Regions from separate parts of the Homo sapiens genome. Here region 2 is linked to region 1. Evidence: fine-mapped expression QTL. A gene starts in region 1. The other region holds a variant in brackets. All regions are shown on one strand. Distances are between the middles of the regions.

Evidence for each region.
Region 2: its variant is fine-mapped to the expression of BIN1 in Th2 cells (Schmiedel 2018, PIP 0.95).

The regions. Positions count from the first base shown.
Region 1 is chr2:127,104,375-127,109,883 of GRCh38, forward strand. It overlaps BIN1 (bridging integrator 1), which reads right to left and starts at 2,780. Exons shown (of 19, transcript NM_139343.3): 1 at 2,486-2,780. The coding sequence starts at 2,569. It overlaps LOC105373605 (a long non-coding RNA gene), which reads left to right and starts at 2,771. Exons shown (of 4, transcript XR_923311.4): 1 at 2,771-3,441. RefSeq lists silencers at 2,628-2,837, 2,719-3,013, 2,848-2,907.
Region 2 is chr2:127,071,944-127,076,943 of GRCh38, forward strand. BIN1 (bridging integrator 1) reads right to left here. Exons shown (of 19, transcript NM_139343.3): 2 at 4,683-4,763. Among named protein-coding and RNA genes, the nearest start is that of BIN1, 33 kb to the right of the region's middle. The variant A/G (reference allele first, on the strand shown) is at 2,122.

The DNA.
Region 1 (5,509 bases):
TGCAGGCTGCCCTTGACCACACTGTCACCCTCACAGTCTGGATGTTTGTTTGGGCTGGAAGTGGATGTGGGAAGGCCGGGGGTGAAGGGTGGATGCAAGATACGGGCCCTTCTTCCTACGCCAGGACGCCAGGACTCTCCCAGCCTCCCAGCACAGCTCCTGCCATCCTTGCTCAGGAAACGCCTTCCTGTAGCCACAGGGAAACTGGAATTGCCCTATTACCCACTGATTTCACCAAGGCAAGGTAGGTATAGTGGTGGGGCTGCCTGTAAGAGACTAGGATTCCAGTTTCATTGACAGTGGGAGTTAGAGGCGGCACTGATCACCAACAGAAGACACTGAGGATGACCCTCCAATGATGGCACAGACTCTACAGGAAGGCACACAGCAGAGGCTGCTGTGGGTTGAGGCATGGGGCTTCCTGCGAGCAGGGCCTGCAACCCAAAGGGAGGGGAAGGCTACTTTCAGAGACCTGGCCTGGATGCCTGTCATGATGGTCATGCTGCCTTGGTTTCTGATGGGGGGAGGGTCCCTAACTAGTCTCCGGCAGGCAGAGAGCAGCTGGAACACTAAACAACTCCAGTCCCAGGAAGCCCGGCATGGGCAAGGTCAGCTGTTGGCCAAGACCAGCATGCCTAGCTGACCAACTGTCAGCCAACTGCCCGTGGCCACAGAACAGGGGCTCAAGAGAGAGGGATGGTGTCTCAGGAGCTCAGTGATACATCACCACCTCCTTGGAGGGGACACAGCCCTTGCCTACTGCCCCGAGAATGACATCAAAGATGCTGCTGCAGAGAAAAGACAACCAGGGCAAAGGAGACACACCAAGAGCCTTGGGGAGCCAGGAAGGGGTGGGACACCAGTGGGAAGGGGGCAGGGAACACAGCTCAGCTAACCTCCCTTCCCATTCATCTCCCTGGCCCTTTAGGGAAGGAAGCAGGCTCTGGCCCAGGGCTGCCTGCTCCAGGCACACAGATGGATTACCCAGTCATGGCAGCCCGGAGCAGGGGTGGCTGCATCTGTGCTGCCACCCCCCCACCCCACAACCTGAAGTCTTCCCAGCCCCCAGCCAGCTATTCCTGGGGCTTTAATCCCTCCTCCTCCTCCTCCTCCTCCTCCTCCTCCTCCTTCCCTGGGGTGGGGGGTTGGGGAGCTGGGTCTGGGCAAACCTGGACTTGGCTGAGGGCCCTTCCTTCAATGCACACCCACCCACCTCCTTAGCCAGGAAACACAGGGATGAGCAGTAGGACTCTGAGGGAGGTATGGGGAAGCTCTAGGCGCCCCCCTCTCCCCCATCCCCCAGCAATCACGTGGTTGCATCCTTAGGGAGCCCGCGGGTCTCAGAAGCAAAAGTCATTGTTTATAAACAGCCACCAGGCCTGGCAGGGGAAGGCCGGCCTGTCCCTGCGCCTCCACCCGGCGGCCGCGCAGCGGGTGGGAGAGGGGGCAGGCCTGGCCGCGGGGCACTGGGGGGCCACCCTGGCAGAAACACAGATTCTGCAATCTCAGATTTCAGAGTTGGAGTCGTCAGGGGAAGTGGCGTCAGCAGCTGGCGTGATCCAATTCAATAAACCAGAGGTGGCTTGGGATAGACAACTGACCGGGTGCAGACCCCCGCCCCTCAATCTCTGCATTTCCTGCACGCTCTGGGCACCCTGGGAGGCCCCGGCTCCATCCCCCATTCCAGCTCTCCGCGAGGAGGGGTCGGGTTTCCTGTGGCGCCTTCCACGCGCCTCCTCCAGGCCAGCTCCCCACCCGGCCGTGGGCTCCCAAAGCCAGTGCCGCCACCCGCTCCCCGGCCGCCGGAAACGCTAAGCCCCTGCTGGGGCGAGGGCACCTCCTTGCGGGGTGCGTAGCCCTGGGCTCCCGGTGGGGCCGGGCTGGGCGGGAGCTTCCAGGCCGCAGGCACCTCTCGGGAAAGGAAACCCAATCCCTCCTTCGGCCCACGGAGAACGAAAGTGGAGAAGCAGTGGGAAGGAAGGAACTGTGGGTGCCGGTTCGAGAAGCAGCCTTGGGAGTCCGGGGGAATAGTGTCCCCAGGGGCAGAGGGACATACTCCCTCTCGCCCCGAGCGCCGGCCCAGCCTAGGTTGCCTGCATGGGCCTGGAGAGCTGAGGGTCACCACCTGGCCTCCCAGCCTCCCGGCCCTTGGCCTCCAAAGCGGGGTAGCCTGGAGCGCGCGCCTGAGAAGAGCCTGGAGCAGGGCCGGCCACTGCTGTGCAGCCGAGCCACGAAGGTGCAAAGCGGGGCCCTGTCCTGCCCCGGCCGGGTGTGGGGAGACAGAGGACGCAAACCTAAGAGGGCACCCAGAGCGCCGGGGAACGCAGCCTGGGGACCTCGAAGCCCCTCGAAAGCGCTCCTCTAGAGGTGACAGCACCAGATCCTGGCGAAGGACCAGGCCCCGGGGTCGGAGGATAGGGGGACAGGTGGCCGGGGCTCCGCGGCGGCTGGGACTCCGCGGCTGCTGGGGCTCCGGCTCGCTCACCTTCTCCTGCGCGCGGGTGAGCTTCTTCTGCACGTTGCTGGCGATCTTTCCCGCCGTCACCCCTTTACTGCCCATCTCTGCCATCGCGGCGCAGGCCTCGCCCGGTGGCAGGGGCCGCTCTCGCGCGGGGAGATCTTGCGCGCCGCGCTCCCAGCCCCCAGCCCCGGCCGCGCGTCCAGACCGGCTGCCGCTCCACGCCGCGCACCCGACAGCGGAGCCAACTGACGGAGGCGGAGCGTGCGCCGGACGGGCGAGCGAGCCAGCGAGCTAGCCAGCGAGCGACGCGGGGACAGAGGGAGGGAGAGGGGAGGGGCCGGGCCTCAGGCCGCGGTCGGCGCCCCCCGCCCGCCCCCTCCGGACAATAAGCTGCCTTTTAAAGGGCCACTCCGGGCGCCGGCACCGCCAGGTCCGCGAGGAGGGAGGGGCGCGCGCGGCGCTGGGGCTGCGGCGAGCGGGACTCCCCTGACGCTCCAGCTGCACCGCCCCGGGGCGGGGACTAATCCGCCGGCCTGGCGTCTTGGTCTTCCCCGCAAGCAGTAATCTCCTGCAACCCAGGAAAGGAGACTAGGTGGAGGAGAGGAGTGCTTTCGAAATCAAAGAGAAAGTGCGGCGAAGGGGGCGCGGCCCTGAACAGAGGAGCCGCGGCTGCTGGGAGAACGCGCCCGGAGCCCCCTCCTTTTCCAGGGGCTCACCTCCCGCCCGGTGCCCGGTGCCCGGTGCCCGACGCTCCGCCTCCTCCCAGCCTTCGGCCCTCGGGTTTTCGCCCGGATACCCTAGGCGCCTCCGGGACATCTCCACATCTTTGCCTACGGCGCCTAGCCCAGTACCAACCGGTGCTTGGTCTTCCCGTTCGCTAAAAATTTATTATAATAACAACAACCTAGCATTACTGAGTGCTTACTGTGTACTAAGTGACTTGACAGGCATTATTTCATTCGGTCTCCGTGGCCCTAGAGGTAGGTGCTATTACTGTTCCTACTTTACAACCAACGCGCCGGGATCGAGGAACGAGATCTCTGCCTCTGTCTCCCAGGTGCTCCACCACCATACGCCGGGTTGTCTCCTACCCCCAGCAGGAAGGAATGATTAGTGATCATTATTCCTGGAGAAGATAAGGTTATTGCTAACCAGCTTTGCCAATAGACCAATGACACTTCTTTTAAGTTAATAAATACGTATTGAGTCTGCTGATACCCACCCCCATTCAGCCCTAAAACATGTCAGGGGCTACAGCACTTTGCTGCCCCTGGAAATTTCTAAAGAACTGTTGATTGAGTTGAGCAGAGAGATAGGTCCCGCTGAAGAGGCCTAGACGTGTCTGGTGCACACACAGGAGCCAGGGCTATGGCCTGCAGGACCCGCAGCGGTCAGAGGAGCAGAGCTGGCCAGGGACAGAGGTCCCTGAGAGGCTTCCTGGAGGAACAGGAAGGGCTCTTGCAGACCACAAACCAAGCAGTTTGTACAAATGGAGAAATCGAGTCCCAGGAATGAGAGGTTCAGCCTGGGTTCACACAGGCCATTCCCTCTTCCCTGGAAGGCCCTCCTGCTCTTTCTCCGGCTACTCGGGGTTCTTCCACCACCGCTCAGTGCTGCCCCATGGCCCAGTGTGTTCGTCTGTCCTCTTCCGGGCCTATTATCATGATGTCCCTCGGTATCCCCCAGGGGACTGGTTCCAGCACATCCGTGGATACCAAAATCCAGGGATGCTCAAGTCCCTCATATGAATTGACACAGTATCTGCATATAGCGTACACAAATCCTCCAAAATACTTTAAATTATCTCTAGATTCTTGTAATAGCTAATACAATTTAAATACTATGTAAATAGTTGTTAACGCTGTATTTTTTATTTATTTATTTATTTATTTTTAGACAGAGTCTCACTCTGTCGCCAGTCTGGGGTGCAGTGGCGCAATCTGGGCTCACTGCAACCTCTGCCTCCCGGGTTCAAGTGATTCTCCTGCCTCAGCCCCCCGAGCAGCTGGGACTACAGGCACGTGCCACCATGCCCAGCTAATTTTTGTATTTTTAGTAGAGACGGAGTTTCACCATGTTGGCCAAGATGGTCTCCATCTCCTGACCTCGTGATCCTCCCGCCTTGGCCTCCCAAAGTGCTGGGATTATAGGTGTGAGCCACCGTGCCCGGCCTTGTTTTTTATTTATATTATTTTATTGTTGTAGTCTTACTTTTTATTGTATTTTTCCAAATATTTTCAGTCCACAGTTGGTTGGATCCATGGATGCCCAACCCACAGATGCAGAGGGCTGACTGTATTCTTATTCTGCAGGAAGACAGACTGAGGCGCCGCTGATGTAGGTCACACAGACAGCAAATGATAAGCAGAGATTCTGCATCAAGCCTTCCTGCACCAATGCCCTCAAAAGCACCAAGCGCTGCATGAGTGAAAAGCATCTGTCAAAATTATTATAAACTCATGCCCGATTTGTGAGTCACAAAAGCAAAACCTACACAGTCTGGGCTTCTAAAGCAGCTTCCTCCTAAAAGCTCAACATGCTTTCAGCTCATGATCTCCTTCCTCCTCATTTTCTGTTGGTCGTTTTTCTAACCATTCTCTAAAAGTGATTTCTTCCAACACTCCTCTGAGGAAAGGAGGAAATGAGCAAAGTCAAATTGCATTACAGTCAGCCCCCAGGGAACAGTGGGAGATTCTGCTTCACTGGACTCTGGTGTTTCTAAATATCGCTTGACAGAAAAATTGGAAGCAACGGAAGTGTTCATTAGAGGGATGGGGTCAGCTGTGACAGCACAGCCACAGGAGGGGCCATTGGGAATCATTTAAAACAACCATTACCGAGACTACGTAGCAACAAGAAAATAATGCTTAGGGCATAATTATGAAGGAAAGGAAAAGATAGGAAATTGTACTTGCAACCATATAAAAATAAATTAAAATAAATTAAAAGCTCATGATCAATGTCTTGAAAGAACAATGCATAAAGGAAGCAGATGTGTTAGGGTCCAGGCATTAAGGCTGACTTCTTTCCCCCTTAATTTCCTTAATA
Region 2 (5,000 bases), 33 kb before region 1:
GCAGAGAGGGGACTCGGGAGAGCGGCAGTGGCTGAGGCTGACCTTCGTAGTAGAAGGGCACCCTCCTGGCCTCCCCTGCCTGCTGCCAGCCCAAGCCTCAGGGACACCCATGTTCCAGTCGCCTCCTGCCCTGAAGGAGGGGCAGCTGGCCATGGTCCCAGGAGACCCAGCATGCCTGCAGCGCTCCAGTCTGGCCAGCTTCATGCTTGCGCAAGAGCCGGAAGGTGGGCCCCATCCATTCAGGTCCACCTCCAGGTGAAGGCCAGCAGGGACCCGGCCACATCCACAGGCTCACCCCCAGCACCCTGAAACCCTCTTCTGTCTCCCCACTACAGGCCTCTCCCTGTCCTTAGCCGGGGCTGCTCTTCCTGCCCTGGTGCCCTAGGGGCCAGCACCTTCCAGGCAGTCTTCTCAACACCACTGTCCCACCTGACAGCAAAGAAGCGGACAGAGGGTCAGCGACCGGCCCAGTCACACAGAGACTCGGAGAGCCCATGAGACCCTCCAAGCCTGGGCACGCAGCCCGCAGGGTGTTTTGTGGGTAATGGGTAGTGATGCGGCCCTGAGAACCCACAGATCTGCCTATTATGATGAATGCTTCCGTGTGACAGTAGAGACATCCACAGGGGGAGCTTCAGAGCAGCACATAAGATGTATAATTTAAAGAGAGCATGTGTGAAAAAAAAAAAAATCTCTAAAATTCCTTTAATCCCCCATAGAGTAGGGTGTATAACACTGGCTAATCATCATCTTTACAAACATCCAAGTCCAAGGCCCACCGATGTGAGACTGAGTGAAGAAACAGAAGACTGCTCCACGGACACTGAGACCTCCCTGGAATTCCATCAGGGGGTCGGATGGAGACCCCGCGGGGCCGGGGAATGAGGAAGGGTCCACCTCACTCCTGACACAGCCACCCTAAGTCTTCACAATTAAAGGCTTTGTTGGTCGAGACGAGGATTAAAGTGTGTTCATGATGGGATGCTATCGTGTCCTCTGATGTCACAGAATCTTCCAGATCCAGCTTCTCTCCCTGCCAGGCCTCCACCATCCCAGCCACACCTCTCACGCCGTCCCCACCTCCCCCCCACAGCAGGGGTCCCCATGGGGTGGGTCGTTGTGCTCCCCCGGGCTTCAGGCCGTACCAGGGCTCCTTGTGTTTCCCAAACAACGCTGGGCTGTGCGCCGGCACGTGGCACGCAGATGTGCAAGGGGCCGGCCAGAGCACTGCCTCCCTGTGCCCACTGCAGCTGGCTTCCTAAGCTCCTCATCAGTCCCCAGGGTAGACACAGCCCTCCCCCGACGGAGGCCCCAGCCAGCTACCCTCCGCAGGGCAGCGTCCAGGCCAGTACAGAGCAGTGTGTGTTTGCTTCCAAGTGGCTCCCTCAGCCCCTAAACAGGGATCTGAGAAAGAATTCTCTGGAGGTCCCAGAGTTCACAGAGCCCAGCTGGGGGAAGATAAGATTCGGGAGCCACTGCCCACCTCAGCCTGTGTCCCAGCTACAGGACTTGGGGGAGTCAGGAAGGTCCTGGAGCAGCTCCAGCGCGGCTGGGCTCAGCCAGCATCCCCAAGCCCTCGCTGCACCTCCCTGGACATCAGTCCCCACAGGTGGCCTGAGCACCCAAGTCCCTGTGCTCCCAGTGGGTCTAGGGGGCAGGGACGGCCCTCCTACGTGGACCCCCTCTGGCACCCCTCAGCCATCAATTCGGGGGGCGACCTTCACTCAATAGTCAGGGATGCCCATTTTGAGCAAAACCTTGGGTGGGCCATGGGGACAAGAAGGAATCAGACTTGCCCCACCTCAGTGACAGACAAACAGCAATGACAGCCCTGCAGCCTGGAAAGCTACAGACGGACCCTAGGAAGAAGAGCTGGGATGCCCTGGAGACCCAGGATGGCTTCCAGAAGGGCCTGTGCCAGGTGTGCAGTACTCTGGGGGAGGGGCAAGCAGGCCCCCATGGGCTCTCAGAGCAGGGGCAGAAGGCAGCGATGCTACTGTGACCAGCGCCAGGTGGGCCCAGGAGGGGCTGTGCACCTGGGTCCTTGGAGAGCAGGTGACAGCAGGCTGATCTACACCCTCTCCTAGGGCCCCCCACCCCATAAGAAGGGGTGGGAGGTTC[A/G]CTTCTTTAAAGACTAAATCACCTGCCATCCTTGTCCCTTGTAGTGCTGGGCCCACTAGGCTTGGGGCTCACAGAATCAGAGGCAAGAAAAAGCTCCACCTCCAGGCTTCCCACGCCCCATTCTCTCTCTCCTTTCCCAGGGCCCCCAAGCCCACTGCAGCCTCCTGAATTCACTCCCCCAACAACAGTGACCTTCACCCCATTCCTTCCTGGTCCCCACACCCTGCCATCCCCACACACCAATCAAATCCAGAACTGGCTGCCTTAGCCCCAGCCTTGAACAAGACCTTAAAACCACCACCCCAACTACCAGCCCTGGCCCCTGAAAAGCCAGCCACCCCACCAAACCTGAGCCCGGGGGCAGACAGAGGCCCAGCTCAGGACTGCTCCACACCCACAGCCCAGCAGCCACCTGGCAGCCCGCAGCACTGGCTATCTTTAGCCCTGGACTCTCTGCCCAACCCCTCTGTCCAAGGAGCAGTGAGTGACTGTTTGCCCAGAGTCAGAGACCCAGAGAGGATGACTCTGAGGGACAGTGGAGACAGCAACACTGTGGTTTCAGCCCTGGGGCCAGGCCACACAGAGTCTCAGCTCCCAACTGTGCTTCCCTCACTCTGCCAAAGCTCAGCCTGTTTTTTGTTTGTTTGTTTGTTTTGAGACCGGAGTCTTGCTCTGTAGCCCAGGCTGGAGTCCAGTGGCATGATCTCGGCCCACCGCAACCTCTGCCTCCCAGGTTCAAGAGATTCTTCTGCCCCAGCCTCCCGAGTAGCTAGGACTACAGGCACACACCACCACGCCTGGCTAATTTTTGTATTTTTAGTAGAGGCGGGGTTTCACCATATTGGCCAGGCTGGTCTCAAACTCCTGACCTCATGATCTGCCTGCCTTGGCCCCCCAAAGTGCTGGGATTACAGGCGTGAGCTACAGTGCCCGGCCAGCTCAGCCTGTTCTAAGGGGCCCCCACCACCTCCACCCCTAACCTGTCTCCCCAGCCTAGCCAGCTGCCCTCAGGACAAGGGATCAGCTCCAGAGAGGAAACTCGATAGTGAACCAAAGGCCACAGAGCCTGGATTTCAATCCCCAACACCCACACCAGCTACATAGCCTTGGAAGATGTGCTTAACTTCTCTGAGCCTCAAGTGCCTCATCTGCAAAATGAGAATATCAGCCCCATCTCAAGGATTGCATAGATCTCTGTCAAACACAGCAGCTCTGGCCCATGGCCACAGCAACTCCCTAAAGGTCCTTCAGAGCAACCCACAGCCTGATGAAGCCAGCTGAGTAGGGACATGCCCTGGGGCTTCCCAGAGATGGAATCAGAACCTAAGACCAGGTTTCTTGTTCAAGCCTCTATTCTGCAGGTGAGGAAACTGAGGCCCAAGAAGCTCTGGGAAGGAATTGCCCAGAGCCACAGAGGCAGTAGATATCCCTGCCACAGGGTCTACCTGGGCCTTGAAACTCCTCCCATAACTGGCCTAAAGGACAATCAGCTAAGGGGGCTCCCCAATCCCTGTCCAGGGAAGCCTGTCAGGCTGAGCCCCTCTGGCAAGCCAAGGCCAACTTGGCCCTGGGGCCTCTCCCCTCTGCTCCCAGCCCTCTCCCAGAATGCTCCCAGCCCTCCCAGCTGCTCCCAGCCCTCTCCCAGAATGCTCCCCGGCCCTCTCCCAGAATGCTCCCAGCCCTCCCAGCTGCCCCCCACCACCCTCTCCCAGAATGCTCCCGGCCCTCCCAGCTGCCCCCCCCACCGCCCTCTCCCAGAATGCTCCCCGGCCCTCTCCCAGAATGCTCCCAGTTGTTCCCTGGCCCTCTCCCAGAATGCTCCCAGCCCTCCCAGCTGCCCCCAACCGCCCTCTCCCAGAATGCTCCCAGCCCTCCCAGTTGCTCCTGGTCCTGTCCCAGAATGCTCCCAGCTCTCCCAGCTGCTCCCCAGCCCTCTCCCAAATGCTCCCGGCCCTCTCCCAGCTACTCCCGGCCCTCGCAGCTGCTCCCAGTCCTCTCCCAGCTACTCCCAGGCCCTCCCAGCTGCTCCCCAGCCCTCCCAGCTGCCCTCAGCCCTCTCTCAAATGCTCCCAGGCCAATTGGAGATGGCTGCGGATGCCTCCCCACAGCCCAGCCTTGAGCCTGCCACACAGCCAGGCACACACCATGCTCAGCAGATGCCCAAATCAAACCCAGCCTGCTCCGCCCCCATGCTAACCGCTGCAGATGCCACTCTCCTGGCAAGAAGCTTCTATAGCTCCCACTTGCCCCTGACATGCAAAGTTTCCCCAAGTCTGGCCACAATCTATTGCCTGCTCCTATCCCACCCTCCCCCTCCCCCTCCCCCAACTACCGTTTCTATGTCTCCTACCAAGAACCTAAAGCATACATACCCCATCCCTCTTCCTTCCCAGCATGCATTGCCAGTGCTCCCTCCTCTAGGAAGTCTTACATGATCTTGTCAGCCCACACTGATTACCCTCCTCCAAGCTCTCGTACTCCACAAATTCAGCTCGTGCCATTTTTCACCTGGCAGCCGAATTTTCACAAACTCCCTAAGGCCAAGGGCCACCCACACTCACCAGCTGCTTGTTGAAATTCTGGACGCACTGCTCAAACTGCTCATCCTTGGTCTCATCTGCCTTCCCCAGCTTCTGGAGAACCTGCCGAAGCCAAGAGAGAAGGGGAGAGTGTTACCTTGGAAAGGAGAGTGGTCAAACCAAGAGTGCTCAGTCACCAACAGCACAGACCAGGGGCTGGGAAGTCTCTAGCCAACATCACCCAGCCCAGGGTGCCCACCCAGGGCTGCAATCCCAGGGCATGGCTGGGTCCATCAGGTTTTCAGGCCTCCCCACCCTCTACCCAGGGCTCGACAATAGGCCAAAAATGGAGCTTAGGAC